Linked DNA regions of Homo sapiens: regions 1 and 3 are each linked to region 2. Evidence: fine-mapped expression QTL. A gene starts in region 2. Each other region holds a variant in brackets. All regions are shown on one strand. Distances are between the middles of the regions.

Region 1 (9,743 bases), 65 kb before region 2:
CTGCACATGCCAGGCTCCTTATGAGAATCTAATGCCTGATGATCTGTCACTGTCTCCCATCACCCCCAGATGGGACTGTCTAGTTGCAGGAAAACAAACTTAGGGCTCCCACTGATTCCACATTATGGTGAGTTGTACGATTATTTCATTACATATTAATATTACGATGTAATAATAATAGCAATAAAGTGCATAATAAATGTAATGCGCTTGAATCATCCTGAAACCATCCCCCACTCCCTGGTCTGTGGAAAAATTGTCTTCCATGAAACCAGTCCCTGGTGCCAAAAATGTTGGGGACCACTGGTATAGAACTCTAGAACTTATTCCTTCTATCTAGCTGTAATTTTGTATCATTTAATAAACATCTCTCTAACTCCCACTTCCCTCTGCCCTTCAAGCCTCTAGTATCCTCTGTTTTACTTTTTACTTTTATGAAGTCAACTTTTCTTAGCTTCCACAAAGGAGTGAGAACATGCAGTATTTAACTTTCTGTTCCTGGCTTAATTCACTTAACATAATGTGCTCCAATTCTATCCGCATTACTTCAAATAACTGGATTTCATTCTTTTTTTAATAGCCGAATAGTGTTCTATTGTGTACGTATACCACATTCTCTTTATCCATTCATCTGTTATTGAACACCTAGGTTGAGTCCATATTTTGGCTATTGTGAATAGTGATGCAATAAACATAGGGGCACAGATGTCTCTTTGATATACTGATTTCTTTCCCTTTGAATAAATGCCCAGTAGTGGGATTGCTGTATCATATGGTAGTTCTATTTGTAGTTTTTTGAGGAACCTCCAACTCTTCTCCATAGTGGCTGTACTAGTTTACATTCCCACCAACAGTGAATAAGAGTTCCATTTTTCCACATCCTCACCAGCATTTGTTATTTTTTTGTGTTTCTGATAATAGCATCCTAACCAGAGTGAGATGATACTTCTTGATGGTTTTGATTTGTGTTTCCCTGATGATTAGTAATATTGAGCATTATTTTATATATTTGTTGACCATCCATTTGTATGTCTTCTTTTGAGAAATATCTGTTCAGATCATTTGCCCTTTTATTTATTTATTTTATTTATTTTTATTTTTTTTGAGACAGGCTTGCTCTGTCACCCAGGCTGGAGTACAGTGGCACGATCACAGCTCACTACAACCTCTGCCTCCCAGGTTGAAGCCATTCTCCTGCCTCAGCCTCCCGAGTAGCTGAGATTACACCCATGTGCCACCACCACACCCGGATAATTTTTTATATTTTTAGTAGAGAGGGGGTTTCACCATGTTGGCCAGGCTGGTCTCCAACTCCTGACCTCAAGTGATCCACCCTCCTGACCTCAAATGATCTGCCTGCCTTGGCCTCCCAAAGTGCTGGGATTACAGGTGTGAGCCACCATGCCTGGCCCATTTGCCCATTTTTTAAATTGAATTATTTGCTTTTTTGCTATTGAAGTGTTTGAATTCCTTGTATGTTCTAGATAATAATCCCTTGTTGGATGAATAGTTTACAAATATTTTCTCTCATTCTGTTGATTGTCTTTTCACTCTATTGATTATTTCCTTTGCTGTGTAGAAGCTTTTTAGTTTGATATAATCCCATTTGTTTATTGTTACTTTTGTTGCCTATGCTTTTGAAGTCTTATAAAATCTTTTCCCAGACCCATGTCCTGAAGCATTTCCCCATGTTTTCTTCTAGTAGTTTTATAGGGTTGGGTCTTACATTTAGGTCTTTGATCCACTTTGAGTTGATTTTTGTATAGGATGAAAGTCAGGAATCTAGTTTCATGCTTTTGCATATGAATATCCAGTTTTGCCTCAACCATTTATTGAAGAGACTATCAATAAGGGTTCTTGGCACCTTTGTCAAAAAACAGTTGGTTATAGATACATGGATTAATTTCTGGGTTCTCTATTGTTCCAGTGTTCTATGTGTTTGTTTTTATGCCAGCGCCATGCTGTTTTGCTTACTACAGCTTTGTAGGATATTTTAAAGTCTGGTAGTGTGATGCCTCCAGCTTTCTTTTTGCTCAAGATTGCTTTGACTATTTAGGGTCTTTTGTGGTTCCATATACATTTTAAGATTTTTTTTCTATTTCTATGAAGAATGTCGTTGGTATTTTGATAGGAATTGCATTAAATCTATAAATTTCTTTGTGTAGTAAGATTTTGTTCTGAATGCTAAAACTGTAGGTATAAATAGGATGGCACTGCTGGCCCAGAGGAAGGCCTGATTAGCCAGGGTGCCCCCTAATAGCTCTGACTTCACTAGTACCCAACCTTCTCTCAGTACTTTGAGGGATTAAGACAAAAATATCACATCATAAGTCTGATGCTGAAACAAGTTTGTTCCTTTAATGAGATAGTTTTTGACAAATTGGATCCAACATCTCCTGTTAAAATGGAAATACATATTTAGAGTCGTGGTAGGGCAGGTAGACAAGTAACAAGCCTGAGTGGCCATCACCACATTGGTATGAATTAATTTAGGAACAAAGAAAAACTTCCTGGGAGGATATGATCTATAATGGGATGGTTGGGGGGGGGGGTTGTTAGTGGTGGTGGTAATGGGTTATTTTAGTTTTGAATGTGTGTGTTGCAGGGAAGGAAAAAGGTTGGTGGAGAGTTCAGAGCCAAAGCCATGCTGAATGACAGGTGGAAGACAGTCTGATGGATCATAGTCACTGTTCTTAAAGAATACATAATTCAGGCTTGCATGAGACAAGATGAACCACTGACATCCTAATTTCTCAAAGTAGTCATTGGAAATGGAAAGAAGAGCCAGGATTTATTGGAGGGTATATTCACACAGAAGGGGTTCATGAAGGTGAGGGACCCTTTCACCTCCCCACTGGGCAGAAAGCACTTGCCAGAAGAAAGGGTTGCAAAAGAAGGTTGAACTCAGCAAGAAAAGTGCCTTGGGTCAGTCTCTGTACTGCTAAATAGGGCCTACCACCCTACCCTGCCAATCCCTACATAGGCCCTGTCTTCAGTAAACACTAGAGTTCGCTTACCTTCCATTCCAAGAACCAATCTGACATCTGCTGTATTAGTCTGTTTTCACACTGCTGATAAAGACATACCCGAGACTGGCTAATTTACAAAAGAAAGAGCTTTAATGGACTTACAGTTCCACATGGCTTGGGAAGCCTCACAATCATGGCGGAAGGCAAGGAGGAGCAAGTCACATCTTACATGGATGGCAGCAGGCACAGAGAGGGCTTGTGCAGGGAAACTCCTATTTTTAAAACCATCAGATCTCATGAGACTTATTCACTATCATGAGAACAGCATGGGAAAGACCTGCCCTCATGATTCAATTATCTCCCACCCAGTCCCTCCCACAACATGTGGGAATTCAAGATGAGATTTGGGTGGGAACACAGCCAAACCACATCATCTGCTGTGCCTCATCCCACAGATAGCAGAGCTTCCTCCTAATCTATCAAGAGTTCAGCATTTAGTGAGTGGTCAGGATCTCACCCTTCATTTAACCAACTAACCACCACCAACCAACCACCACCATCAGAGGTGGGCCTAAGGCAGGCCTTGGGGTCTCTGGGAAGTGGGCCATGCTCAGTCTACATCCCAATGTGCTATGGCTCCTGACACTCTGAGCAGGGGCTCTCCCTTGCACACACCAAAGGAATGACTGGGCTTAAAAAACGTGCCAACTTGCTTATAAATCAGTCTCCTCAGATTCTACAATTCACCGAGCCATAAAACCTCAGAGCTTCAAAGATGCTTAGAAAATATCAAGGCCAGGGTTCCCAGGAAGCCTCAATGCTGCCATTTTACAAAGGAAGAAACTGAAGTGCAGAGAGATTAAGGGGCTTGTCCAGGTCACACAGCTACTTAGTGGTAGATCTGTAACTAGAAAGGTTTCAGTTCACACTCAATGTTCTTTCCTCTAGAATCTAACCTCTGCCCCCTTGTTATTTTTGGCATGAGAGAGGAGGATTATATTTATGTCTCTAGAAAAGCTGTGCTTTTGGATTGAATTCTGATTTTCTCTTCTCAAGTCTCATTGAGAACCACATGAAAAAACTCTGCTGGATTTGAGTTAAAAAAAAAAAAAAAAGAATCTGAAGAAAAAAATAGCAAATCTGGTATCCTAATGAGATAATGAATGCACAAGTACTTTGAAAGAGGTACAGCACTTCAGTGCTTTTCAGATATGAGGTTTTGTCATGCTCTTGAAAGAAATGCATAGGCTTTACTGACATGGGGGCTGGGGCTGGGGCTG[GGGCCCT/G]GGCAGAAATGGGGAAGCACAGGCTGTGGCAAGGGGGGTTTCTCCAGAAGGCTGACTCATTTCTTGGCTGTCCCAAGCTTAGAGAGCCAGATTTCTTAGGGTTGTTTACCACCTTAGTAAGGAACTGGTGGAGGGTTTTTTTCTGGAGTTAAGCACTGCAGGAAGAGCTGCCCACAGTATGGGGGTGGGTCATCTGCTTCTGGACTGCCCAGGCCAACTGTGGTTACCCCAGTTAACTGTGGTGAACTGTCCACATAACCAGCCTTCTGGATCTGCCTTTCAAGGAGTCCCACTGTGCTTCTCCCTGCTGAGGCCGCTGAAAGGGCATAGGCAATTGCTAGAGGTGAAGAAAAACTCTGTAGCTAAGCTATAAAAACAGGCATCCTGAATCTGGCTACATCCTGGTAATCTTGCACATAGGATGAATCCTAAGAAAAGGTGAGTCTTGTTAATGTGCACAGCACACAAGCCAGCGGGATGGCGTGCCAGTCAGCAGATTTTCAGTTTCAAGATAACTGAAAATCCATTTTTATCTGACTTAGACAAAATGAAACAAAACACCAAACCAACAAACAACAACCACACAATTTCACTGATTCGCATAACTGAAAAGTCTAAGGTTAGGGCTTGTTTCAGGCACCACTGATCTTGTGGCTCAAACTATGTCACTGGGACTTGGTTTAACCCTGTCTCAGCTCTACCTTTCCTCAGTGTTACCTTCTCTCTCAGGAGCCCTGGGGTAGCCCCCAGTGGCTGCAGGTCATCTGTAATCCCAGGGGGTCCCAGCAAAAGAGAGAGGGAATCCCTTTCAGTAATGGTCCTCCTCCCCAACTAAATTAGAGGCTTCATTCTGACTGGACCAAGTTAGAGCGCATAACCATCCCTGGGCTCTGATTGGCCAGAACAGAGTCCGGCGTTCCACCTGCCAGGTGGAAGGGTAGATCTCTCCCATGCTCACTGAGCCTGAGACAGGAGGTGGGGTGGCATCCCAAAGGAAATCTAGCATGCTGGTACCAGAACGGGGAATAGGTGCTGGGCTTGGAAAAATAACAGACAAACACTCAGTGCTACCCATTTAAGCATTTGAAATAATTTCACTTCAAAATCAGAGTGGTCGAGTCTCAGACACATGAGATTCTGTCTCAGATTTCTGGTGGCTTGAATGGAGGGTGTACAGAATCATGTCTTGATAAATGTTTAACTTCTAAGATTTGAAGTGCAGATATTGGTCTGGGTATCCCTCCTAGAAATCTTTGCATTTTCTGCATTTTCTTTTTAATATTTTATTTTTATTTTTATTTTTATTTTTTTGAGACAGTGTCTCAGTCACCCAGGCTGGAGTGCAGTAGTGCGATCTTGGCTCACTGCAACCTCCGCCTCCCGGATTCAAGCGATTCTTGTGCTTCAGCATTCGGAGTAGCTGGGACTACAGGTGTGAGCCACCACGGCTGGCTAGTTTTTGTATTTTTAGTAGAGACAGGGTTTTGCCATGTTGCCCAGGCTGGTCTCGAACTCCTGGCCTCAAGTGATCCTCCTGCCTCAGTCTCCCAAAGTGCTGGGATTACAGGCGTGAGCCACTCACTGCACCTAGCCTATATTTGAATTTTAAATAGTGATTCCACACCTTAACCTAACCATAATGGGAATTGGATTAGAGAATGGTGGGAATTTCAGACAAGTTGGTGAGGGTGAGAAGTAAGGGAAGAGAAACGTTATGGAACCTCTCACATAAAAAGTGCACAGTGGCCTACCCCTATATGGATGTGAGACTGCTCCTGATAGGAAATATCCCCAAACCCCTTGTTTGCAGTCCACGGCCCCAGTCTCAACTCCACCAAATCATGATGCTTCCCCTGAGATCATGATTGCGTTGCCCAGTTTCCTCTCTGACCAGACCTGATTCTACAGACAAAAGCCAACCTCCTCACTTCGATTCCCCTGGATCCTTTCCTCCTCTTCACATCTACAGCCGCTCTTCTAACTTCTTACTCCCGTTGCAATTCCAGATATTCCAGAGACAGGATATCTCCAAGGCACTCCAGGGCCCCAAATAACAAACCTTATTTGTTTTCCACCTCACACAATCTGAACTCTTCTGCCTGCCCTTTGAAACCCTTCGCGAACACCTCCAACCTTATTTCTTGCTCCTCCTCAATACAGCCTGTTCTGGTTGGCACAGCCTCACCTCTTACCTTTGCCACGATGCTACTCCTGCTGCGTCACTCAGTTCTGCATGGTGAGTCTCCTCCATCCACTGTGATCTGGAACCACGTCATTGTCAGTGGAGGTTGAATACAACTGGAATTTTTTATGGGATTCTAACAGACCTGTCCCTGATAATGGCGTGCCCCTAATTTCCGTTCTTTACTGACTACTCATTGGCTGTATCACTCTAGTTGCACAAATGATCTCTATCTCCCTCTATGCATGCCTACTAGGTCCAGGGAAGTAATATAGTGTTTGTAACTAGGAGTGGTAAAGATGATGGCTAATTGGAGAGAGTAAGCTCAAGCTAAAAGCATTCAAATTCAATTTTTTTTTTTTTTTTGAGACAAGGTCTAGCTCTCTTGCCCAGGCTGGAGTACAGTGGCATGATCACAGCTCGCTGCAGCTTCAAACTCCTGGACTCAAATGATCCTCCCACCTCAGCCTCCGGAGTAGCTGGGACTGCAGGTGCTCACCACTATGCCCAGCTAATTTTTTTTAAAAAAAAAATTGTGGAGACAGAGGTCTTTCTATGTTGTTCAGGCTGGTCTTGAACTCCTGGGCTCAAGTGATTCTCCCATCTTGGCCTCCCAAAATGCTGGGATTACAGACATGAGCCACCGTGCCCAGCTCAAATTCAAAAATTTTAAGACATTATGGGACAAAGAAAATTCACCTGTCCATCCAAATAATGTAATGTGCAATAAATCTGCAACCACTGCTTAAGCTTGTCTTGAAGTTTTTCTGTTTTGCAGGACTCTTCCTGAGCAGTACATTTTCTTCTCTTCTAACAGAGTTAGAATTTATTGCTTACAACTCTTTCAGAAAATGGCAGTAATTAGAAATGGAGTCTGAGGAGGGGGATTTGCTCAAAATACGAGTATCGTTTCTTTACCATTTTTCTTTAGCAATGTATTCTGTAATCATAAATGAGCTACATGAAGATCTGAGCACAGCCTGGAAATATTGCATGTTTAATATCAGCCTCCTTTCCCTTCTTCAGAATTAAACTCTGGATCCTTCCTAGACTTGGCCAGTTCCAAGTCACGACTTCGTCAGATACACTCTTGCTGTAAGAAGCAGTAAAGTTCAGTGGTTATGATCACAGACCTAGAGCTGGTCTATCTGGGTTTAAAGCCAGACTCTATAGCTTTCTGGATGTGGCTGTCTGTTTAACCTTGGGCAAGCTAGGTGACCTCTGTTTGCCTCAGTTTCCTCATTTGTGAAGTGCGGATAATAATAGTACCTACCTCATGTCATCGTTTTAAGGATTAAATGAATTAACACATTTAAAATATAAGAAGTTTGAAAAGCTCTTGGACTCCGGCTGCAGCGTCAGCCTCCCTCGGGCCTCGGCAGCGGCGGCGGCTCGCTCGCCTCAGCCCCAGCGCCCCTCGGCTACCCTCGGACCAGGCCCGCAGCGCCGCCCGCCCTCGGCCGCCCCGACGCCGGCCTGGGCCGCGGTCGCAGCCCCGGGCTCGCGTAGGCGCCGAACGCTCCCGGCCCGCCCACTACGGGCCCAGGCTAGAGGCGCCGCCGCCACCGGCCCGCGGAGCCCGGATGCTGGCCCGGAGGAAGCCGATGCTGCCGGCGCTCACCATCAACCCTACCATCGCCGAGGGCCCGTCCCCAACCAGCGAGGGCGCCTCCGAGGCAAACCTGGTGGACCTGCAGAAGAAGCTGGAGGAGCTGGAACTTGACGAGCAGCAGAAGCGGCTGGAAGCCTTTCTCACCCAGAAAGCCAAGGTCGGCGAACTCAAAGACGATGACTTCGAAAGGACCTCAGAGCTGGACGCGGGCAACGGCGGGGTGGTCACCAAAGTCCAGCACAGACCCTCGGGCCTCATCATGGCCAGGAAGCTGATCCACCTTGAGATCAAGCCGGCCATCCGGAACCAGATCATCCGCGAGCACCAGGTCCTGCACGAGTGCAACTCACCGTACATCGTGGGCTTCTACGGGGCCTTCTACTGTGACAGGGAGATCAGCATCTGCATGGAGCACATGGATGGCGGCTCCCTGGACCAGGGGCTGAAAGAGGCCAAGAGGATTCCCGAGGACATCCTGGGGAAAGTCAGCATTGCGGTTCTCCGGGGCTTGGCGTACCTCCGAGAGAAGCACCAGATCATGCACCGAAATGTGAAGCCCTCCAACATCCTCGTGAACTCTAGAGGGGAGATCAAGCTGTGTGACTTCGGGGTGAGCGGCCAGCTCATCGACTCCATGGCCAACTCCTTCGTGGGCACGCGCTCCTACATGGCTCCGGAGCGGTTGCAGGGCACACATTACTCGGTGCAGTCGGTCATCTGGAGCATGGACCTGTCCCTGGTGGAGCTGGCCATCGAAAGGTACCCCATCCCCCCGCCCGACGCCAAGGAGCTGGAGGCCATCTTTGGCCAGCCCGTGGTCGACAGGGAAGAAGGAGAGCCTCACAGCATCTCCTCTTGGCCAGGGTCCCCCGGGCGCCCCAACAGCGGTTACGGGATGGACAGCCTGCCCGCCATGGCCATCTTCGAACTGCTGGACTATATTGTGAAAGAGCCGCCTCCTAAGCTGCCCAACGGTGTGTTCACCCCCGACTTCCAGGAGTTTGTCAATAAATGCCTCATCAAAAACCCAACGGAGCGGGCGGACCTAAAGATGCTCACAAACCACGCCTTCATCAAGCGGTCCGAGGTGAAAGAAGCGGATTTTGCCTGCTAGTTGTGTAAAACCCTGGGGCTGAACCAGCCCGGCACACCCACGCGCACCGCCGTGTAACAGTGGCCAGGCTCCCCGCGTCCCGCTGGTGACCTGCCCACCGTCCCTGTCCACGCCCCGCCCTTCCAGCTGAGGACAGGCTGGCGCCTCCACCCACCCTCCTGCCTCACCCCTGCGGAGAGCACCGTGGCGGGGCGACAACTGCGCACGCAGGAACGGGGGTCTCCTCTCCTGCTGGTCCCTGCCGGCGTGCCTCTAGGGACGGGCGACGCTGCTGTGTGTGGTCTCAGAGCCTCTGCTTCCTTAGGTTACAAAACAAAACAGGGAGAGAAAAACCAAAAAAAAAAAAAGAAGTTTGAAAAGTTGGGAAACACTGGGTAAACTTATTTTTAAACAGTGTATTAGTCAGCTTTTCAAATAATATGGTCAGTATCTTTTTCTTCAACCCTTGGACAACCCCCTATTTAAGACAATGAGTCCAGGCCAGGCACGGTGGCTCACACCTGTAATCCCAGCACTTTGGGAGGCCAAGGAAGGCCAACTGCTTGAGCCCAGGAGTTGGAGACCACCCCAGGCAACATAG
Region 2 (10,730 bases):
CGTGAACCCAGGAGGCGGAGATTGCAGTGAGCCGAGGTCGCGCCACTGCACTGCAGCCTGGGTGACAGAGTGAGACTCCGCCTCAAAAAAAAAAAAAAAGAAAGAAAGAAAAGTGTGTCTTTTTTTCATTGGGCTTGGCACCCTTGTCGAAAACCAATTGGCCACATATGTGAGGGTTTACCTCTAGGCTCTCTATTCTCTTCTATTGACTTGTATTTCTGCCCTTATGCAAGTAGTATAGTGTTGTTTTGTTTTGAGACGGAGTCTCACTCTGTTGCCCAGACTGGAGTGCAGTGGTGCAATCTCGGCTCACTGCAACCTCTGCCTCCCAGGTTCAAGCGATTCTCCTGCCTCAACCTTCTGAGTAGCTGGGATTACAGACACGCACCACCATGCCTGGCTATTTTTTATTTTTTATTTTTTATTTTTTAGTAGAGACAAGTTGTCCATGTTGGCCAGGCTGGTCTCCAGCTCCTGATCTCAAGTGATCCACCCACCTCGGCCTCCAAAAGTGCTGGGATTACAGGCGTGAGCCACCGTGTCTGGCCATGGTGTTTTAATTACTGTAGCTTCACAGTATATTTTGAAGTTGGGAAGAAGTGTGAGTCCTTTTTTTTAAGATTGTTTTGGCTATTCAGCTCTCCTTGCAATTTCATATAAACTTGAGGACTGGCTTTTCCATTTCTGAAAAAGAGGCTGTTGGAATTTTGATAAGGATTGTGCTAAATCTGTAGATCAATTTGAATTATATTGACTAACACTGTTAAATCTTCCTATCCTTGAATACGAAATGTCCTTTCACTTATTTAGGACTTCTTTAATTTCTGTAAGCAACATTTTGTACTTTTCAGTATATGAGTCTTTTACCTCCTTGGTTAGATTTATTCACAAGTATTTAATTCTTTTTTTTTTTTTCTGAGACGGACTCTCGCTCTGTTGCCCAGGCTGGAGTGCAGTGTCGCAATCTCAGCTCATTGCAACATCCGGCTCCCGGGTTCAAGCAATTCTCCTGCCTCAGCCTCCCAAGTAGCTGGGATTATAGGCACCCACCACCACGCCCAGCTAATTTTTATATTTTTAGTAGAGACGGGCTTTCACCATGTTGGTCAGGCTGGTCTCGAACTCCTGACCTTGTGATCCACCCATCTTGGCCTTCCAAAGTGCTGGGATTACAGGCATAAGCCACCGCACCCAGCCGTATTTAATTATTTTAGATGCTATTGTAAATGGTATTACTGTTTTAATTTCCCTTTCAGGTTATTCATCACTGGTATATAGAAACACAACGGATAATTTTCTCATTTTTGGGAGGGAAGAAATTGAGGCTCAGAATAAGTTGCTCAAAGGTGCATGGCTAGTAAGGCCCAACTCAGGGCTCTTAATTCTGAATCTATCGTGCTGTCTCTCTGAAGAGGTTGCTTATTGGGCCCCTTTACCATTTTGCCCTTTCCCTTTGACTCAATGCTCTTAATTGCAAAATAGGAAGCACTGGGAAAAGAAAGAACTGGAGCACAGCCGGGTGTGGTGGTTCACACCTGTAATCCCAGCACTTTGGGAGGCCGAGGTGGGCAGATCACCTGAGGTCGGGAGTTGGAGAGCAGCCTGGCCAACATGGTGAAACCCCATCTCTACTGAAAATACAAAGATTAGCTGGGCATGGTGGCAGAAGTCTGTAATCCCAGCTATTCCGGAGGCTGAGGTAGGAGAATCGATTGAACCCAGGAGGCGGAGTTTGCAGTGAGTTGAGATCGCACCACTGCACTCCAGCCTGGGCAACAGAGCAAGACTCCATCTAAAAAAAAAAAAAATTGGAGCACTGCAACAGTTATGTTCCGAATTTTGCCAGTGTAACAACTGAACCACAGGAGGCAGCCATGGTCTCAGTGATACCCATGGATACGTTCACATCAACCCTCTTTGACTGGAGGGCCCACAGGCAAATGACAGTCAACATTGAATTTGTGACCTCAAAATGCCAAAATACTTTATGAGAATGACTCAGAAATCAAGAAGCTACTTGTAACAAATCAAGTACTGAAATGCATTGTCAACACAGGACAGCCTCTCATCCCTGAGAAAAGGATTGTGTTAGGACATGCAGTTGAGGCTAAGACTCTTGAGGAACTGGGTGGGGTGTGGCTCAGGCTTGCTTGGGAGAGAAGCACTTTGCAGCCTGCCACCAGGCTGGAGACCTGAGTGTGCCAAGTCACTCTGCGTAGTCTAACAGACACTGGCAGTCTTGTATGTCTACAGGAGGGGATGCATGAACTTTCTCCAGGAACCTGAATACCATTCACGAACGACTGGGAAATTCCCTCTCCCCAGTCCCCACTGAACAGTTTCCTTCTCTCAAATGACAGGATTCCTGAATCTCTTTCTACTTCCTTCTATATCTAGGAGATAGCACATCGCTGCAGCTGTCACTAATGGGAACGTGGCCTGATAGCTGTGGACAGTACTAGCAGCATTTTCTCAGTCTGCCTTCCTGCTACCCTTTGCTAGGCCAGCAGGATTCCCACAAGGGAATACTGAAGTCTGATGAATAGGAGCACATGTGTGCATGAGTGTACACACACACACACACAAACACACACACACACAGAATTGAGAACTTATGGTATATTCTCCCCTCAAGAAGGGAAGAGCATTCTGGCTGGAAGATAGTGTCTTAGGATAGCCTCAATTTACCTCTGCTATCTCCAATGTGAAGGTATTATATTCCCACAATGCGAATCTTCCTCATACTTCCTGAGAAACCTCACACAAGAAATGGGAGAGCCTATATCCTTGAAGAATTACCTACTGACATTTGGAGTAGAGAAATAAGGGCCTGCCTGAGCACATGTGTAAGTTCTTCCCTAATACATGAAATATTAGGAAAATCCCACAGGGCTTCGAGACTGCCACAACCAGATATTTTACTCTTGCTCACTCAGGAAGGTAAAGAGAAAAGCAAAAACAAACAAAACAACACACACACACAATCAAATAGAAAATAAGTGCAGATAGTTCACAAAGCAAAGCATCGGGTGTGCTATCAGGCTCCAAGGCAGCTTTCTCTACAGCTTGGACTTAGACATGTTATAACAGCCATTTTATTATGTCACAGAAAGAAATAACTGAAGTAGGTCATAACATTTCAAATTATTTTTCCAGTAGGAATATTATGCCCTGATGACATAGTCTAGTTTCACTTCTTCCATAAGTCACCAGAGACTTTCCTTAAAATGGTCCCTTGTCTCCAGCCTCTTGCACTTCATGCCATCCTCATGTTGCCTTATGTATTAGTCTGTTCTCGCATTGCTATAAAGAAATACCTGAGACTGGTCAGGTGCAGTGGCTCACACCTGTAATCACAGCACTTTGGAAGGCTGAGGTGGGTGGATCACTTGAGGTCAGGAATTTGAGACCAGCCGGGGCAACATGGTGAAACCTCGTCTCTACTAAAAATACAAAAATTAGCCTGGCGTGGTGGCATGTGCCTGTAATCCCAGCTACTCAGGAGGCTGAGGCAGGATAATCATTTGAACCTGGGAGGTGGAGGTTGAGGTGAGCCGAGATCACACTGCTGTGCTCTGAGATCACACCACTGTGCTCCAGCCTGGGCGACAGAGCGTGACTCCGTCTGAAAAAAAAAAAAAATACCTCAGACTGGGTAATTTATAAAGAAAAGAAGTTTAATTGGGTCACAGTTCAGCAGGCTATACAGGAATCATAGCAGCTTCTGCTCCTGGAGAAGCCTCAGGAAACTTCTAATCATGGTGGAAGGCAAAGGGGGAGCGAGACATCTTACATGGCAGGAGCAGGAGGAAGAAGCGGGGAGGTGCCAAACCCTTTAAACAATCCTCGTGAGAACTCACTCATTATCGTGAGAGCAGCACGAGGAGGATGGTGCTAAACCATTCATGAGAAACTGCCTCCGTGATCCAGTTACCTCCCACCAGGCCTCACCTCCAACACTGAGGATTACAATTCAACATGAGATTGGGTGGGGATGCAGATCCAAACCATATCACCTAATATTAACCAGTAAAGATTAATATCATTCCCCTAGTCAAAACTTTGAGATTTCCTTACTATCAAGAGAATTGACCCTTAATTCTGTGTGTTATTTGAGGCTTCTTACCAATCAGTTTCCCTACTTATCTATGTCCTTATTCTAACTCCTCCTACTCACACTTTAGTCCTGGATTCAAAACCCACCTCCTCCACTTCTATCCACACTGACCTCTGTCCCCTATTCCTATAGCATACTCACGGTACATCTCATTTTGGCAGCTTATTTATCAAGTGATTACTATGTATGCTCAAGTGAACTAGATGTTTTGTGAACACTAAGAGAATGAGATAAGGTCCCTGACCTGAAGGAGGGAACGTTGCTGTTCTGTCATGCTATGTTTCCTGAGAGCAAGCCATGTATCCACAGGAAAATGGAAGTCTACAGGTTCCTCCAGGATGTCTCTGTGCTATGTACATGCTGGAATTTCAGAAAGACTTGCTAAATTGAATTAAATTCTCTCTCTCTCTCCAATTGATATAGTTGAAGTGCAATAACTAATATGCACTTAAACTGTCCAAAGTAACAGAACTAGTCCACTACCGCTAGGCCATGAGCAAGTCTTCCAGGGGTAAGAAAGGAAAACCCACCCTGGTGTGCAGCCCGATCAGCAACAAGGAAAAAGTTGCTCAGTGCAAGTCTACTCTCCTGTTTGGAGCCTTGTGGTTATGCTGGGTTATACTTGGTTGTGCAGGTGTAAACTGCTGAAGTGGGAAATTAAGTGTGGTGACCAAAAGTGTGATGCTCAAAGGAGTGAGGAAAGGCAAAATGAGCAGAGTGGGGAAGAGGAGCAGCAGAAACCTCCCAGAGCAGATGAGCAGCAGGGCCATCAAAGAAGGACTGGTTTCCTTCTCACATAACCAAGGCCAGTCCCTGGGAACCACAGTTCAGACTTCACATATTTGTAGCAGTAAAGGCTTGATGTTGGCAAGTTTATTTCCCAGACACCTGTTCCCGCAGGTAACAGCAGCCAGAGCAGCTGCCGTGAGTGACTCTGAGGTCGTCTCTCTCAAAGGTCCCGAGCTGGAAGGATTTGGAGAAGCGCAAACCCCAAACCCAGGTTCTTCTCCATGGGGCCCCGGGATACGTTGGAAAATCTAACCAAAGCAGGAAAAACTGGCGGGCCTGGAGAACGGGGCAGAGATGGAACAGAAGTCCCCGTTGACTTCAGGCATCCCCTGTCTTTCCCATCCTGAGCCAGGAGAAAAGTCCGCTTCCTGCAGACGACCTCAGACCAAGCAAGGTGCCCGCCGAGTCTCTCCTTGCAGGTCCGGCCCACGATTTCCACTCATCTCTTTCCCCCGGGCGCGGGGCGGCGGCAGGCGGGGTCACCAGATCCCCCTAGCCCGGGCCCCTCCAGGCGCCAGGGACGCTGACGCTCGCGCTCTTCCTCTCTCGCCTCCCCTCCCCACCTCTCCGCTCCTTCGTCCAGTCCCTCCCCCAGCCTCGGCGCAGGGGGGCCGGGCTTGGCTCCGCGAGGCCCGTGCATTCCAGAGAGCCCAGCGAGCTAGAGCAACAAAGGAGCCGGGTCGCCGGCGGGGAGAGTTCGGGGGGCTGCGGCGCGCTGGGGCGAAGGTGGCTGCTGGGCCGCGGGCTGGCGCGGGGGCGGAGCCGGAGCTGCACTCGCACCCCCGGCCCGCGTCTGGCCTCCCTCGCGGGGCGGGGAGGTGGCTTTAATGGTGGGAGAGGGAATGGGGCTGGGGATTGGGGGCCCAGGGGTCTCCTAGGGCTGAAGACAACTTGGATTGCGAGGCTAGGGCTTGGGGAGTCGTGCATCCCGTTCCGGGCCTCCGCAGCCCAACATGGGCCCCGGGTTCCAAAGTTTGCGAAGTTGGGCGCCGAGGGGCCGGGGCGCGCGGAGCGTCCGGGGGGGCCCGGGCCCGGATTCTCTGGGCGCACAGGTCGCCTGAGCCGCCTCCGCGGCCGCCGAGGTCGTGCGTGTGGCCGGGGGGCTCCGAGGAGCAGGCGGGGGCGCCGGGGCTTTTGCTGAGTTGGCGGGGTTGGCCATGGCCGCTGCCCGCCCAGCGCGGGGGCCGGAGCTCCCGCTCCTGGGGCTGCTGCTGCTGCTGCTGCTGGGGGACCCGGGCCGGGGGGCGGCCTCGAGCGGGAACGCGACCGGGCCTGGGCCTCGGAGCGCGGGCGGGAGCGCGAGGAGGAGCGCGGCGGTGACTGGCCCTCCGCCGCCGCTGAGCCACTGCGGCCGGGCTGCCCCCTGCGAGCCGCTGCGCTACAACGTGTGCCTGGGCTCGGTGCTGCCCTACGGGGCCACCTCCACACTGCTGGCCGGAGACTCGGACTCCCAGGAGGAAGCGCACGGCAAGCTCGTGCTCTGGTCGGGTAAGTGCGGCGGAGCCGGGTCTGGGGGGCGGGAGGTGCCGCGGTAAGATGGGGGCACCCTTGGAAAGAACAGGCTCAGGCCTGAGTTTTGGAGAGGGCGGGGACAGCACCCGGGAGAGTTGGAGGGACAGATCCCGAAACTTTGGGGGCAGGTTACGTGCAGGATGGGACCCTCGGTCATGGGAAAAGGAGGGCAAGGAAGTTGACGAAGCGGGTCACAAAGGGCCTGAGCTGGTGGGTGAGCAAAGGATGGCGGGGATGAGGGGCCCGTGAGGAGGTGGCTCTAAGCCACGGGAAAAGACATTTTGTAAGAAGAGGAGATGCTCCACCTATTCTGGAAGCAGGGTGCCGGGGGATTCAAGGAGGTGTTGAAGACCCTGGGGAAATTGGAGTTGGAGAGGAAAAGGGGAGGGATGACGGAGGAAGAGGTTTAGACATTTGGAGGGAAGGGTAGGGGGACATGATCGAGTGAAGTTTTGAAGGAAAAGAAACCTCCCTAGTGATGAATTATTAAAAGGTAACCAGAAAGTTCTGGAAATCTTGATTTGGGAGACAGGAATGAAGCCTAGAGAACTGTGATCTTGTCTGGCTTTCACGGGAGATTTCATTCAGTTTGTGCATCTGAAAAACCGGCCCTCTGACGCATGCAGGAGGTTATGAAGGAATAAGACCTTTCTAACAGTTATTTGTGTTTTCTTTGGAAATTTGGTTACCGAGGCTGGTCAGGGCTGTGGAAGGACGCTTAAGTCTGGAGTGTTGAGAGCCTGTGGACACTTCCATGGTGGTTTGAAGTCCCAAAGCCCCCTCACTGGAGTGGCAGAGTCTGAAAAACTGCACACTGAACCCAAATGTCCTTCCTTAGCAGTGTGGAGTATACTCTCCCCCACCTGTCACTTTTCTAGATGAGGCTTGGAGGGTGCTGAGGAAGGGAGCTGGCCTTATCAGCCCTCGCTTCTAGCCAGTATGATTCTAAAACTGTCCTGGGAAAAAGAAAAGAAAACCAGGAGCCAGGAGCAGAACTGGGAGCCTCCCTCTTTTGACAGGGCTGGGGTACCCCATCTCTTAGCTCTGCCCAGGGGGCTGGTGAGGACCCTAATGTAGGGAGTGTATGTAGGCCGCCTGTCATTGACAAGTTCTCGGCCTTTGTCAGATGTTGGACAAGGCCATAAGGTTCCTGGCTTGGTGCAGATGCTGGAGGAGGAACTTGGAGGATGGTATCCATGGTACCCATGAGGAAGAGCTGCATCCTTTTTGGGGATCAGGTTCTAAAGTCAGCACAGCACATTAGACAGAAATCATGTGTAAACAACAGTGGCTTTGAAAACTCTGCAGATTACCATAGTGTAAGGTGGATGTGGTTTTGCATATACACTTCTTTTACGATGTTTGCATACATGTGTTACATGTATACTCATATATAAGAATGGGTATACATAGAAGATAAAATAATTGTAATTTTAAAGTTACATTCATGCAAAAGACTGAAATAATAATAATAATAATAAAAAGAACACCAAAGTGAGATTAAGCAAGATTGCTTTGAGCACCACCCAAAATGAGACTTGAGTTTAGGAGCCAGCTGTGTGGAAAGTCCAAATCTCTCAGCACTAGAATCTCACCCAGTTCTGAGTTGCTCATGCTGTCAGAGGATAATCTTTCTGTCCCTCTCTTTATTGATTGTGCAAGGACCCATGGTTTAATTTTCCCAAGTTAAATGCATGTTTGATGTTGCCTCTGTGTAGTTACCATCAGATCAAGGAGGAAGGGTATGAACCTCTTTCCAGCCCATACTCTTGAGAGCAGCTGCTGAGCAGACAGAAGTAGTTTAAGCTGGAACATGTATCAATTAGTACCATCTGCAGGTTGTGCAGGTTGAAATCTCACTATCTGTGCCTTTTGGCAGGGCAGGGTCCTACAGAGATGCCAGCACTGAGCCCAGCACCGTTAGTTCCATTAGTTCACTATGAGTTCTTCTCTGCCACCAACCACCATCCCTCAGCTCATTCCTGTTTCCATATGTGTTCTGGTTGCACTCTTTCTGCTTGGGACTTGCAAGTAGGGCAGAAGCAGGTGTTGGCTTGAGCTGGGTAATGAGTAGGTAGAGTGAACCCAAGCCTCGTGTGAGAATCACAGCCAGGTCAGCTGGTAGCCTCTGGCAAGTGATTTATCATGTCCCGAGTTAATGATCTTGATTTTGCATTAGACAGGGTCAGTGTTACCTGGCTCTTAGGGGTGTTTTTGTGGGTGAAGGATGAAGGTGATCTAGGTTGTCTTCATCGGTAAACTCTTGAATGTAGGAACTGGGTCTTCACTTTTTTTCAAAGCCTGTGAGTACTGAGTACACAGCCATGCTTCTATTCATGCATTCAGTTATGTATTGAATGTTTGCTGTATGTCACATGCTGCGCATGTAAGGATGAAGAATACAGATATGATCCTCTGTCATCAAGAAGACAGGCTGGACATGGTGCTCACACCTGTGATCTCAGCACTTTGGGAGGCCGAGGCGGGAAGATTGCTCAATACCAGGAGTTTAAGACCAGCCTGAGACCTTGCCTCTAAAAAAAAAAAAGGAAGACAGATAATTCAACAGGCTTTGGAAATACCTGTGAAAGGTACTGTGGCATTTTAGGGTACTGAAAAAGCATAAAGGACCCAAGGAACATCCCAGAAGAACTGGCATTTAACCCATAACTTGACACATAAGCAGGAATTGCCTGGCCGAGGGAGAGTTGAGGTTTGAAGGGATAGGAAGAGGAAATAGCATGTACAAAGGTGTAGAGGTAGGAGGGCTTGGTGCTTTGAAAGAAAGTATAAGAGTTGCAGTAGAACTGGATCAAAGCGTGTGAGGGGTGGAATTGTGAGAGATAAGACCTAAAGAATTAGAAAATAAAGGGATTTATACCTCATATTAAGTTTGGATGTTATCCAGGGGATGATAAGGAGCCATTGAAAGATTTTAAGCAAGGGAGAGATGTAATTGTCTTTGCATTTTAGCTGGATCTCTTTGGGTATGGTGTGAAGAAGCCATAGGAGCAGGGAAAGCCTGGAGCCTGGCTTCTTGACCAGGGGATGTTGAAGTAGCCCAAGTAAGAGACGATGGCGGTTGGGACTGGGTAGCAGGACAGAGGGAGTGGGCAGATCCCACTAACTTTCAGAGGTAGTGCTCATAGGGCACTGATGAGTTAGATGTGGAGCCTCAGTGAGCAGGAGGCCTCGGGTTTCAGGCTTGGATGGAAGGTGGTGCCATTCCCTTTCACTAAGATAGAGAATGCTAGAGGAAGAAGAAGTTTAGGCAGGAGGTGTGGCTTTGATTTTGGCCGTGTGAATTAGAGATGCTCATTGGACATCTATGTGGAGATTCTCAGCAGATCTGGAAATAGGAATTGCTGGAGAGAGGTGGCCACTGTGTGCTTCCTTGGCCCTGACTACTGAGGCTTTGGAAGGATGCCATTGACTGAGGAAGTTTATAGCTCAGGTTGGTCCAATTTCTAGGTCTGTATAGACCTCAGGTCTTTCCTCTGTCTTTCATCTCTCTGGCCTCAGGCTTCTTCAGTCACTTAGCATCTCTCCCCTTTACAGCTGGAAATGCCTCCTCCCGGGCATTCCAAGCTGACCAGACAAACATAATGTCCAGGCCGTGGTCCACCTTAGGCCAAACCTGGTTTAGTAAGTGGGGCAAAAAAGCAGAGAGGCCTGCAGCTGGCAGTGGCGATAGGTCCCTGAGAGCCAGCACGTAGCCTCCTTAACCACTGCTGTGCTCTGTGTGGTACATAAGTGTGTGGCCCTGTCACCTTGCCCACTTGCAGGTAAGTAGGAGAGAGACAAAGGCTGGGAGGAATTTCTTGTTTGCCTCTCACACATTGAATTGAGGGCTGAGAGGAGGAATGTTTTTGGTGATGGTGGGTTATTTTCAGGGACGGATCAGGAAGAATTTCCTTAGAGCTATTTCCAAACTTGGCTGGTAATCAGAGTCAGTTAAAAAGATATATATGGCCGGGCGCGGTGGCTCACGCCTGCAATCCCAGCACTTTGGGAGGCCGAGGTGGGCGGATCACGAGGTCAGGAGATCGAGACCATCCCGGCAAACAGGGTGAAACCCCGTCTCTACTAAAAATACAAAAAAATTAGTTGGGCATGGTGGCGGGTGCCTGTAGTCCCAGCTGCTTGGGAGGCTGAGGCAGGAGAATGGCGGGAACCCGGGAGGCAGAGCTTGCAGTAAGCCGAGATCACGCCACTGCACTCCAGCCTGGGCGACAGACCGAGACTCCATCTCAAAAAAAAAAAAAAAAAAAAAAAAAAAATATATATATATATATATATATATATATATATG
Region 3 (10,730 bases), 20 kb before region 2:
CTTTTAAAAATTGTTTATTGAGATAAACAGAAGGAAGGAAGGGGGAAGAGAACAAGATTTTGTTTTGAGGTTTATTTTTCTTTCTTTCTTTTTTTTTTTTTTTTTGGTTGTTGTTTTTGTTTTTTAAGAGATGGGAGTCTCACTAGGTTGCCAGGCTGGCCTTGAACTCCTGGGCTCAAGTGATCCTCCTGCCTCCATCTCCTAAGTCTCTGGGATTACAGTCATGTGCCACCATGATTGGCTTAATAAAAGGTTTTGAACAATGCTTGCCATATCTGGAAATGGTCTGCCATTCAGTGACAGTCCTTTTTAAGAACCAGAATGTCTTTCCCAAAAGGCAAATGATTGCCAAGGGCAGACTACAAAACTAAGGAAAGAAAATTTGAGAAAAGTAGTGGGGCAGGAAGGAAGAGACTATGGTAGAAAATTATGAAATTGGGCCAGGCGCGGTAGCTCATGCCTGTAATCCCAGCATTTTGGGAGGCTGAGGCGGGCAGATCACTTGAGGCCAGGAGTTCGAGTCCAGCCTGGCCAACATGGCGAATCCCTGTCTCTACTAAAAAACACCAAAAAAATTAGCCAGGTGTCAGGAGGCTGAGGCACAAGAATTGCTTGAACCCAGGAGAAGGAGGTTGCAGTAAGCTGAGATCGCGCCACTACACTCCAGCCTGGGCGACAGTAAAACTGTATCAAGAAAAGAAAAGAGAAAGGGAGAGGGGAGGGGAGGGGAGAAAATTATGAAATCGAGAGCCACTGAGTTAATTCCGAATTTCGTAGTCCTCCTGGCTTACAGTAAGATCCTGAAATGATGTATTAAATAGCTCTGTTTTGAGTCTAAAGAGATGCAATTATCTAGTGTCCACTAGAGGGCAGTGCCTCAGCTCAGTAAGCTACTTTCTGCTAAAAAAATTAAAAATTAGTTTGTTTTTATCAGTCAACAAGTATTTTGTGATAATAGCATTCAGAGATAGATACACATTGGTATATCTTGAAATGTGTCTCTGAAAAGCTTCAACAGCAGGTCCAGCATTTCTCCTGCCCACTGGTACCTGAGGGCCCTGGGATGGGCTTTGGAACTGAACCGGCTATCTTCCACCATTAGGACTCGGTTCTGATTTCAAGGCAGACTCAGTTAAGAAGGATGATCCCTGTCTACTGTTATTTTTGCTGGAAGGAGCAAGTTAGGGATTAGTCCTGTGTTCTGATTCCTTGCCCATGTCTCCGGCAGGCTCGAGGGAAAGTGAGTGAGATCATCAACAATGCCATTGTGCACTACCGAGATGACTTGGATCTGCAGAACCTCATTGATTTTGGCCAGAAAAAGGTATGGGTCAGCCAGTGGTCTGGGGGACTGTGGGTAAAAGTGAATGTCATCCCAAGAGATGCCTCACCCTCTATGCCTGTGGGGCTCTTCATTACCTGCCAGGTAATGGCTTCTGGGAAGGGGTTTGGCAAAAAAGCACACGTAGCAGAGTGCTTTAAATGTACTTTTAAAGACACAGAACAGTATATATAGTAATCTACTGTGTTATAAATGGTTACCTACAGGGGGTGAGGAACTGGGCAGATTCTTGAATATTACCTCTTCAAAAGTGACATTTTAGGCTGGTCCAAAGGGAGTGAGTTATCTCATTTGATTGTTCACAGTCAGCTACAGATCCAACTCCTTGTTCTACTCTTTCCCCCCTTCTCACTGCTGCACTTGACTAGACTAAAAAAAAGAAAATTACATTTAAAAAATTGTGATAAAATTTACATAATGTAAAATTTACCATTTTTAAGCATACAGATCCGTGGCATGAAGTACCTTCAATTGTTGTGCAACCATCACCACCATCTCCAGAACGCTCATCTGCCCCAGATGAAACTCTGTATCCATCAAACACTAACTCCCCATTTCCTCTCTTGAATCTCTGTATCCATCAAACACTAACTCCCCATTTTCCTCTCTTGAAACTCTGTATCCATCAAACACTAACTCCCCATTTTCCTCTCTTGAAACTTTGTATCCATTAAACACTAACTCCCCATTTTCCTCTCCTGAAATTCTGTATCCATTGAACACTAAAGCCCCATTTTCCTCTCCTCCAGCAACCACCATTCTACTTTCTGTCTGTAAATTTGACAACTCTAGGTACCTCAAATGAAGGGACTCACGGTATTAATGCTTTTTTGAGTGGGTTATTTCACTTAGCATGTCTTCAAGTTTCATCTCTGTTTTGGCATGTGCCACAACTGCCTTCCTTTTGAAGGCTGAATAATATTCTGTTGTATGTATATGCCACATTTTGTTTATCCATTCATTCACCAGTGGAGAAAAGGGTTGCTTCCACCGTTCGGCTACTGTGAACAAGGCTGCTATGAATCAAAAGTTAACAATTAGGCCAGGCATGGTAGCTTACATCTGTAATCCCAGCACTTTGGGAGGCCAAGGCAGGCAGATCATTTGAGGTCAGGAGTTTGAGACTAGCCTGGCCAACATGATGAAACCCTGTTTCCACCAAAAATACAAAAATTAGCCGGGTTTGGTGGCGCACACCTGTAGTCCCAGCTACTCAGGAGGCTGAGGTGCGAGAATAGCTTGAATTTGGGAGTTGGAGGTTGCAGTGAGCCAAGATCATGCCATTGCACTCCAGCCTGGGTGACAGACAGAGACTCCGTCTCAAAAATAAATAAGTGAAAAATAAAAGTTAACTTTTTTTTTTCCCTGAGACGGAGTCTTGCTCTGTTACCCAGGCTGGAGTACAATGGCGTGATCTTGGCCCACTGCAACATCCGCCTCCTGGGTTCAAGTGAATCTGCCTGCCTCAGCCTCCTGAGTAGCTGGGATTACAGGTGCCTGCCAAACCACGCCCAGCTAATTCTTGTATTTTTAGTAAAGATGGGGTTTTGCAATATTGGCCAGGCTGGTCTTGAACTCCTGACCTCAGGTGATCTGCCCTCCTCGGCCTCCCAAAGTGCTGGGATTACCGGTGTGAGCCACAGCACCTGGCCAAAAAAGTTAACTTTTAAGTAAAAGTGCTTCTGAGACAAGTCCTGAGTTCCCCTTCCTCTGGTGCAATAGACACTTGACTTTGAGATCCAGTTGGCTCTCATGGAGTAATGATTGACTCACAATATTGAAGATTCCTCCCCTGTGTTTTCTCTATCTTAAGGAGAAGTTTTTCAGCACTGATACTGTAATTATTTCAGCCAATACTTTTGATCACTTCCATTTGCCTGCAAAGCCAGAAACTTCTCTCAAGAAGATTATAGCTGAGTATGTAAAACAAAATATATGTACAACTGTAATACCAACAAGCACAGTGGTAAGTTATAACAAGATATACGAAGTAATAGAAATTAAGAAGTGAGAATATCTTCAGGCGAAGGCAACTGGGAAGCTGGAGCTCAAAGTTTAAGGCTGTGTTAAAACACAACCTAAAGTTCCCAGTAGAAGCTTGCTATAGACTTTTGGTGGCTCTGAGAATTCCCCTGGTCACCTCAGTGTGAGGGGTGGGTGATTCTTAACCTCTGGTGGGTTTTGTTGCAGTTTAGCTGCTGTGGAGGGATTTCCTACAAGGACTGGTCTCAGAACATGTATTTCAACTGCTCAGAAGACAACCCCAGTCGAGAGCGCTGCTCTGTGCCTTACTCCTGTTGCTTGCCTACTCCTGACCAGGTGAGCCAGCATCCTGCCTCATTTCCTCCTAGGCAGCGAGCTGAGTCACTTTCTGATGGGGGCAGCTGCTACTGGGGATCCCCATCCCCTAGCTTCACCGATCAGTCATGTGGGACAGCTGTCAGGTGTTTTTCTTCACCCCAACCTGATGCTTCTATTAACCTCATACTCATGTAGTCCACATGGAGTTCAGAAGGGACAGATTTAAGTTTTAAGTTCAGATTCAGTACCTGTGCAGGTTTGTTATATAAGTAAACTTGTGTCTTAGGGGTTTGTTGTACAGATTATTCCACCACCCAGAGCAAAGAGACCTGGATCCTGACCTCTCAGAGGAAGGGAAGTCTGCATTTGGCAACTTCCAACCCAATATCCTCCACATATATTCTCTGACAATTTAGGAGTTTGGGAAGGGTGGGAAGCCCATCAGCTAAGGCCCCAAACAAAAAGTTATTGGAATTACAGTCCCAATTGGCTTTTCAACTCTTTCCCCAGGCAGTGATCAACACTATGTGTGGCCAAGGTATGCAGGCCTTTGACTACTTGGAAGCTAGCAAAGTCATCTACACCAATGGCTGTATTGACAAGTTGGTCAACTGGATACACAGCAACCTATTCTTACTTGGTGGTGTGGCTCTAGGCCTGGCCATCCCCCAGGTAACTTACCCTGTGAGACTTGTTGGTCCCACACACTCTGTAAAGACTCCTTTGTTTTGGGGAAGGCACCTGGGGATCAGCGAGGGTGTCAGGCACTGACATGGCTGAGGGGTAGGGAAAGGGATAGTGCTGGCCGCACTGGGAAGATCGAGCCAGGGAAAACAAGGC[C/G]ATCACTCACTGCTGAGTGCCCAATTCCTTCTTGCCTCTCCCAGCTGGTGGGAATTCTGCTGTCCCAGATCCTAGTGAATCAGATCAAAGATCAGATCAAGCTACAGCTCTACAACCAGCAGCACCGGGCTGACCCATGGTACTGAGAATCCATCCTGCACCTCCTCACCATGGAAACTGGCAAGCCTCATAAACGAACAGCAGTGGGTGCTGAAAGCAGCACCAAATGGAGATTTGGATTCCAGCCCCCCAGTGACAGCCCAGTGGGAAGAAGCAAACTCCAGATGGGCAGAAGGCAGGGTGCACAGGTGGCTCCAGTCTCAGGAGGATGCGCCTCCTCTCCCCCATCCCAGCCCTCAGCATTGTGCCAGAGTGATACCCTTAAGTGTTTGGGTTTATGTTTTCAGTTTTGTTTGGGAAACAGCAGTTGCACAGAGAGTTGGGGGTACTGCTGCTGCCTTTTCACCGAGGCACTGCCACCACCAGCTCTAGCAGGGATGCTCCTGAGCTTGGCGGACATACTTAGATCCTAACGTGCCAGTGAGACCTGGCTGTGGAGAGTAGCACTGGCAGCCCTGCCTGGACTCCACTTGGCATGATACCAGCTCCAGAAGGGAAGGGAGTGGAGCAGGCAGTGAGGAGAGAGCCTGGGGGTCGGCTGGGGACAGCCGTATGTGCTAGGTAGGAGTGGAGGGAGATATGTTTACCAAATGCCTGTCCTGCCATCCTCCCAGGTAGTCAGAGTGAGCTACATCCTGCCCCGCCTTCATTTCCATGGAAACATGGCAGCTAGGACACGGGGTACAACAGCAGCCAAATTCTTCCCCACCTCCCTTACTTCGAAAAAAAGTTTGGAACCCTGGTCCCTATACTCTGCAGTCAGAAGTGGGACTGAGCCATACATGCCCTTGAATTCCTCCCTGTCTGGCCCTCCCTCTCCAGCAAGCAGGGTTTTCTTTAACTTGGCAGTGTGCAGAGGAGAAGTGGTAACACCCCCACCCCATTCCCCTGCATCGGAGCTCAGTATTCCTACAGGGTAAGAGGTAGGAATCTTGCTGGGACGAGGGGAGCCAGAAGTGGCAATAAAAGCGTGTTGACCTGGGCTACGCGGGACTCCATGAATTTTCCATTCTGGCAACTGGAAGGGGAGGTGTAGAAGGGCCCTGCAGAGGACGGCACTGGAGACTCTCCTAAACGCCACACACCTCCCCCTTGCTGCCCGCCACACGCGCGTCTCCTTCAACCGATGCATTGCCACCCTCCCACAGCCTCGCCCTCTGCTCTAAATTAGGTCGAAAGAGTCCCAGTTCCAATCTAGGAACAGCATAATTTTGTTCCAAAACCTGATCTGTGTTTTTCTAATTAAAATTAATTTGTCACCCAAAACAGGAGGGGGATGGGGAGGAGGGACATGAGCACTCCGCTGGGGCCGGGACGGGGAATGAGGAGGAAGAAGGCCCTCTCTTCCCCTACCCGGGCCCTCCAGGACCTTCTCCCTGAGTCGGCTGTAGGGAGGACTCCGAGGAAGCTCGGCGCGGTGCGCTGGGCCTCCTGGCGCCGGGAGGAGCGCGCGAGGCAGGCGGGGCGGGCGCGTCCGGGGCGGGGCGCTGGACTTCGTGGGTGGTCCCCGCCCCCGCGGCGGCCTAGGCCCGCGCCTGCGTCCCCCAACCCGGAGGAGATGGGGGGCTGTGCTAGCTGCTTGCCCAGCGAGTGTTCCCGGAGTCTCCTCGCCGCACCCCGCTATCGGGCGCTCAGACCAGGGGCTCGGCCTGGCGGGAAATAGCCTCGACCGAACTGCTGCGGGGACAAAGAGCCGCGAGTTCGCTCCCTGCCCCCAGTGTCTCCTAAGCGAGCCTTCTGCTCCTAGGAAGGCGCCTTTCCAGCAGCCGCTGGGACCCTGGCCAGTGTTTAGCTCCCAACTAGTAACAGACGGAAAGAAAAAATAAAATTATCCAGAATCTAGAATAAAAAGTAAGGGCCTTTTATTCTGGGAGAGGACAGTTAAAAAGCGCGCTTTCTTGCTAACTTGCCTTTCTTGGTTAGTGCCAGAGACGTGCACTTTATAAACTTATTTAAGTGACACGGACCCAGAAGTCGATGTCTTGGGTTAGAGGTTGGAGTGATGCGCCCTCTGGGTTCAGCGGCTTTGAGGAGCTCACCCTGCAGCGGGCTCCGTTTGGGGCCCCTTGGAGGAAGTAAGACCAGGAACCGTGATCCTCAGAATGATTATTCAAATCTGGATTTTCAAAACTAAGAACTACACTTTCACCATCGCCTCTACTGTCTCTCAGTATCTAGCCTCCTGGGTCTGGACTAAAAGGCTGGGAACTTCTGCCCATGCCCCAGACTTTATAACGCACAGAGCAAATGTTCAGTATAGTGCAGTTCAGGGTTCCTAGCTAGATTGCAAATTGCCAATGTCTCTGATTCTCAGTCTGTAGCTTTCTTTCTCTTCGGCCTGATGCTGGGGAAGAAAATACGCGAAGTTTTATATTTCATGTTTGCTCCTTGAATTTCTACCTATTTCTAGTAACCCTCCTCCCAAACACACACTGTTACCAGACACACACTGTTACCGGGAGTCCTTCCCAAGAGAGGGTTCTTGGATCTGACACAAGAAAGAATTCAGGGCAAGTCCATAAAGTGAAAGCAAGTTTATTAGAAAAGTAAAGGAATAAAGAATGGCTACTCCATAGACAGAGCAGCCCCAAGGGCTGCTGGTTGCCCATTGTTAGGGTTATTTCTTGATGATATGCTAAACAAGGGGTGGATTATTCATGCCTCACCTTTTTAGACCATGTAAGGTAACTTCCTGACGTTGCCATGGCATTTGTAAACTGTCGTGGTGCTGATGGGAGCGTAGCAGTGAGGACGACCAGAGGTCACTCTCGTCAACATTTTGGTTGTGGTGGGTTTTGGCCGGCTTCTTTACCGCAATCTGTTTTATCAGCAAGGTATTTCTGACCTGTATCTTGTGCCGACCTCCTATCTCATCCTGTGACTTAGAATGCCTTAATCTGCTGGGAATGCAGCCCAGTAGGTCTCAGCCTTATTTTACCCAGCGCCTATTGAAGATGGAGTTGCTCTGGTTCAAATGCTTCTGACACCACTACTTTAGAATAGCTAATCAAATGTAGGCCGCAAAGGTGGTTGAATGAAAGGAGATTCTTGGGGACAGCAGAAATCAGGCTTGGTACACAGAGGTGGAGAGAAAGGCCTGAAGGATGGTGAAAACCTGCCAGGGTGGCATGCCAAGAAAGGCACCACTAAGTTCTGCGGGCCTTAAGCCCTGCAGTTAAACAAAGACTTGTGCCCAGAAGAGCAAATTTTGCAGAATGTTCAGTGAAATTCTGATTTCCTCCTATCAGGTTTTTATTGCTACTGTTACAAATTACCAGACATTTAGTAGTTTAAAGCAACACAAATTTATCTTACATTCTGGAAGTAAGAAGTCCAAAATGGGTCTCACTGAGCTAAGATCAAGGTGTGAGCAGGGCTGTATTCCTTCTTGGGGGCTTCAGGGGAGAATCCATCTTTCCTGCTCCCAGAGGCCGCGTGCATACCTTTGGGTGGTCCCTTTCTCCAACTTCTGTCATCACATCTCCTTTTTCTCTGACTCTCCTACTGCCCCCTGACAGGACCCCTGTGATTGTATTGGCCCATCTAGATTATCCAGGATGCCCTTCCCCCATGAAGATCATGAATCTCGCCACGTCTACAAAGTCCCTTTTAGTATGTAAGGAAAGAGATGCATCGGTTCTAGGGATTAGGGCATGGACATTTTTGGGGTGGCATGATTTAGCTCATTACATCCCCCTTTCCAGCCTCATGAATGCCTTCAGGTGCGGGGCATTTGGGAATGAGCTGATGTTGGATGCTGGCAAGAGTTTGAGGTAGGTGTTCTCTGGTCTTCTTTCTGATAATTATGTAACGTCTATCAAGTGCTTATGATGCACCAGGCACATATTTATTATGAAGTTCAATACGCAGCCTTGGCTATTTTCTGACTTATCCTCATCCTGAAGACCAGATATGTTAACAGGGCCAGAGACCAGGTTCAAAAAGGAGAGCAGGCCAGGTGCAGTGGCTCATACCTGTAATCCCGGCACTTTGGGAGGCCAAGGCAGGAGGATCACCTGAGGTCAGGAGTTTGAGACCAGCCTGGGCAACAGAGGGAGACCCTGTCTGTACAAAACATAAAAATTAGCCAGGCATGGTGACATGTTGGCCTCTACTGTCTCTTGCTATCTAGCCTCCTGGGTCAGTCCCAGCTACTTTGGAAGCTAAGGTGGGGAGGATCACTTGAGCCTGGGGGTGTGTAGGGGTGGGGGTGGGAGGCAGGGAGGTGGGTGTCGAGGCTGCAGAGACCTGTGATCACCCCACTGCACTCCAGTGAGCAACAGAGAAGACTCTTTCTCTCTCTCTCTCTCTCTCTCACACACACACACACACACACACACACACACACACAAAGCAAGCAGCACAGCTTCTTCCATCAGCAGTTCTTCTGTTCTGTTTTGTAAACACCCCCACCCCACCCCCAAAAATAAGAGCAATTAGATATTTCAAATCATCATAGGTAAAGCACTTAGGGGAGGGAATAAAGTAAGGGATAACCACGGTCTAGAACTCCAGTTGGAAATTAAGCCTCCAGAGTCTTCTCATTACCATATCGGGAATGTGGAAAATCAATCAAATGAATGGAAATAGCAAAGGGATTCCAGAAATATTTTGGACATCGGTGCTCACTATATAATAAACAAGAAGCAATGCAATGTTGAGAGGAAGCTGTAATCATAATTACTAATAAATGCTATTAGGCGAATTATTACAGTGTGGAAAATAAGTAACAGATTCCTACCTCACACTGTGCACTGCAAAGCATTCCAGAAGGGTAAAAGAGCTAAGATTTTAAAGTAAAACAAACAAGAAAACCAGAATATCATACTGTCCTAGCTCTAGGAAGCTACAGTAGACAGCTTTTCAGTGTATCTTCCCAACTTGCAATGATTCCTTCTTCTTTGGAAACTGGCATCCACCCCTCAAGCCATAGGGGTGAGTCTTGAGGAGCCATATTTATCCTCTAAGGCCTGGTCCCCTAGGCATAGCTGATTGGATCCAGCTCAGGCACTCTATTCGTTTCCTAGGGCTCCCATCACAAAGTACCACAAAAATAGATCGCTTAAAACAACAGATAATTATTGTTTCACAGTTTTGGAGGCCGGAAGTCTGAAATCAAGGTGTTGACCAGGCCATGCTCCCCGGAAGCCTCCAGGGGAGGATCCTTCCTTGTCCTTTCCAGCTTCTGGTAGCTGGGTATTCCTTGGCTTGCGGCAGTATAAATGCAGACTCTGCCTCCCTCTTCATCTTCCCTCTGTGTCTGTGTCCCAATTTTCCTCTTCTCATAAGGATGCCAGTCACATTGGATCAAGGCCCACTGTACTCCAGTATCCTCATCTTTTTTTTTTTTTTTTTTTTTTGAGACAAAGTCTTGCTCTGTCACCCAGGCTGGAGTGTAGTGTCACGATCTTGGCTCACTGCAACCTCCACCTCCTGGGTTCAAGTGATTCTCCTGCCTCAGTCTCCCTAGTAGCTGGGATTACAGGCACGCACTTCCACGCCCTGCTAATTTTTGTATTTTTAGTAGAGTCAGGGTTTCACCATGTTGGTCAGGATGGTCTTGAACTTCTGACCTCAGGTGATCTGACCATCTCAGCCTCCCAAAATGCTGGGATTACAAGCGTGAGCCACCACGCGCCTGGCCTCCAGTATCATCATCTTAATTAATTACTTCTGCAATGACCCTATCTCCAAATAAGGTCCCAATCTGAGGTGCAGGGGTCTAGGGCTTCAACATATCTTTTTTAAGAAGTCAAAATTCAACCCACAACAGGCACCTAACCCAAACAGTAACAAACAGAGTTATTTCCCTGGGACTTGGGAATTGAGAATGAGGTTCTAGTCACAGCCTGGGCTGGTCTCATGAAGAAAGAGAAGGCAAAGGGAGGCTGAGGTACCAGCCCTCTTATGCTCCAGGGACTGATTATGGAGAAAGTCTATTCCCAGAAACAAGAGAAGGAAGGAGTGGAGTGCGGTGAGGAGGAAGAAGAGGAGTCCTCCTAGAAGCGCCTTTCCTCTATAATCCCAGAACCTTTCTGCAGCGGCACTGCTTTCCAGCCGTGGCTTCCCTATCTGCTTACAGTAAAGCCTGTTTTGTTTGCTTAGGGAAGCTCAACTAGTTTCTCTT

Evidence for each region.
Region 1: its variant is fine-mapped to the expression of SMO in monocytes after Pam3CSK4 (Quach 2016, PIP 0.95).
Region 3: its variant is fine-mapped to the expression of SMO in whole blood (TOPMed, PIP above 0.99).

The regions. Positions count from the first base shown.
Region 1 is chr7:129,118,498-129,128,240 of GRCh38, forward strand. It overlaps the pseudogene LOC407835. Among named protein-coding and RNA genes, the nearest start is that of TSPAN33, 21 kb to the right of the region's middle. RefSeq lists enhancers at 3,738-3,907, 4,358-4,627, 8,783-9,283. The variant GGGCCCT/G (reference allele first, on the strand shown) is at 4,250.
Region 2 is chr7:129,183,089-129,193,818 of GRCh38, forward strand. It overlaps SMO (smoothened, frizzled class receptor), which reads left to right and starts at 5,545. Exons shown (of 12, transcript NM_005631.5): 1 at 5,545-6,394. The coding sequence starts at 6,064. RefSeq lists an enhancer at 4,763-4,852 and silencers at 5,482-5,751, 5,982-6,241.
Region 3 is chr7:129,163,246-129,173,975 of GRCh38, forward strand. TSPAN33 (tetraspanin 33) reads left to right here. Exons shown (of 8, transcript NM_178562.5): 5 at 1,229-1,324; 6 at 3,533-3,661; 7 at 4,154-4,315; 8 at 4,528-6,454. The coding sequence ends at 4,629. It also overlaps the pseudogene RNY1P11. Among named protein-coding and RNA genes, the nearest start is that of SMO, 20 kb to the right of the region's middle. RefSeq lists a silencer at 5,942-6,161 and enhancers at 6,532-6,581, 6,651-7,520. The variant C/G (reference allele first, on the strand shown) is at 4,484.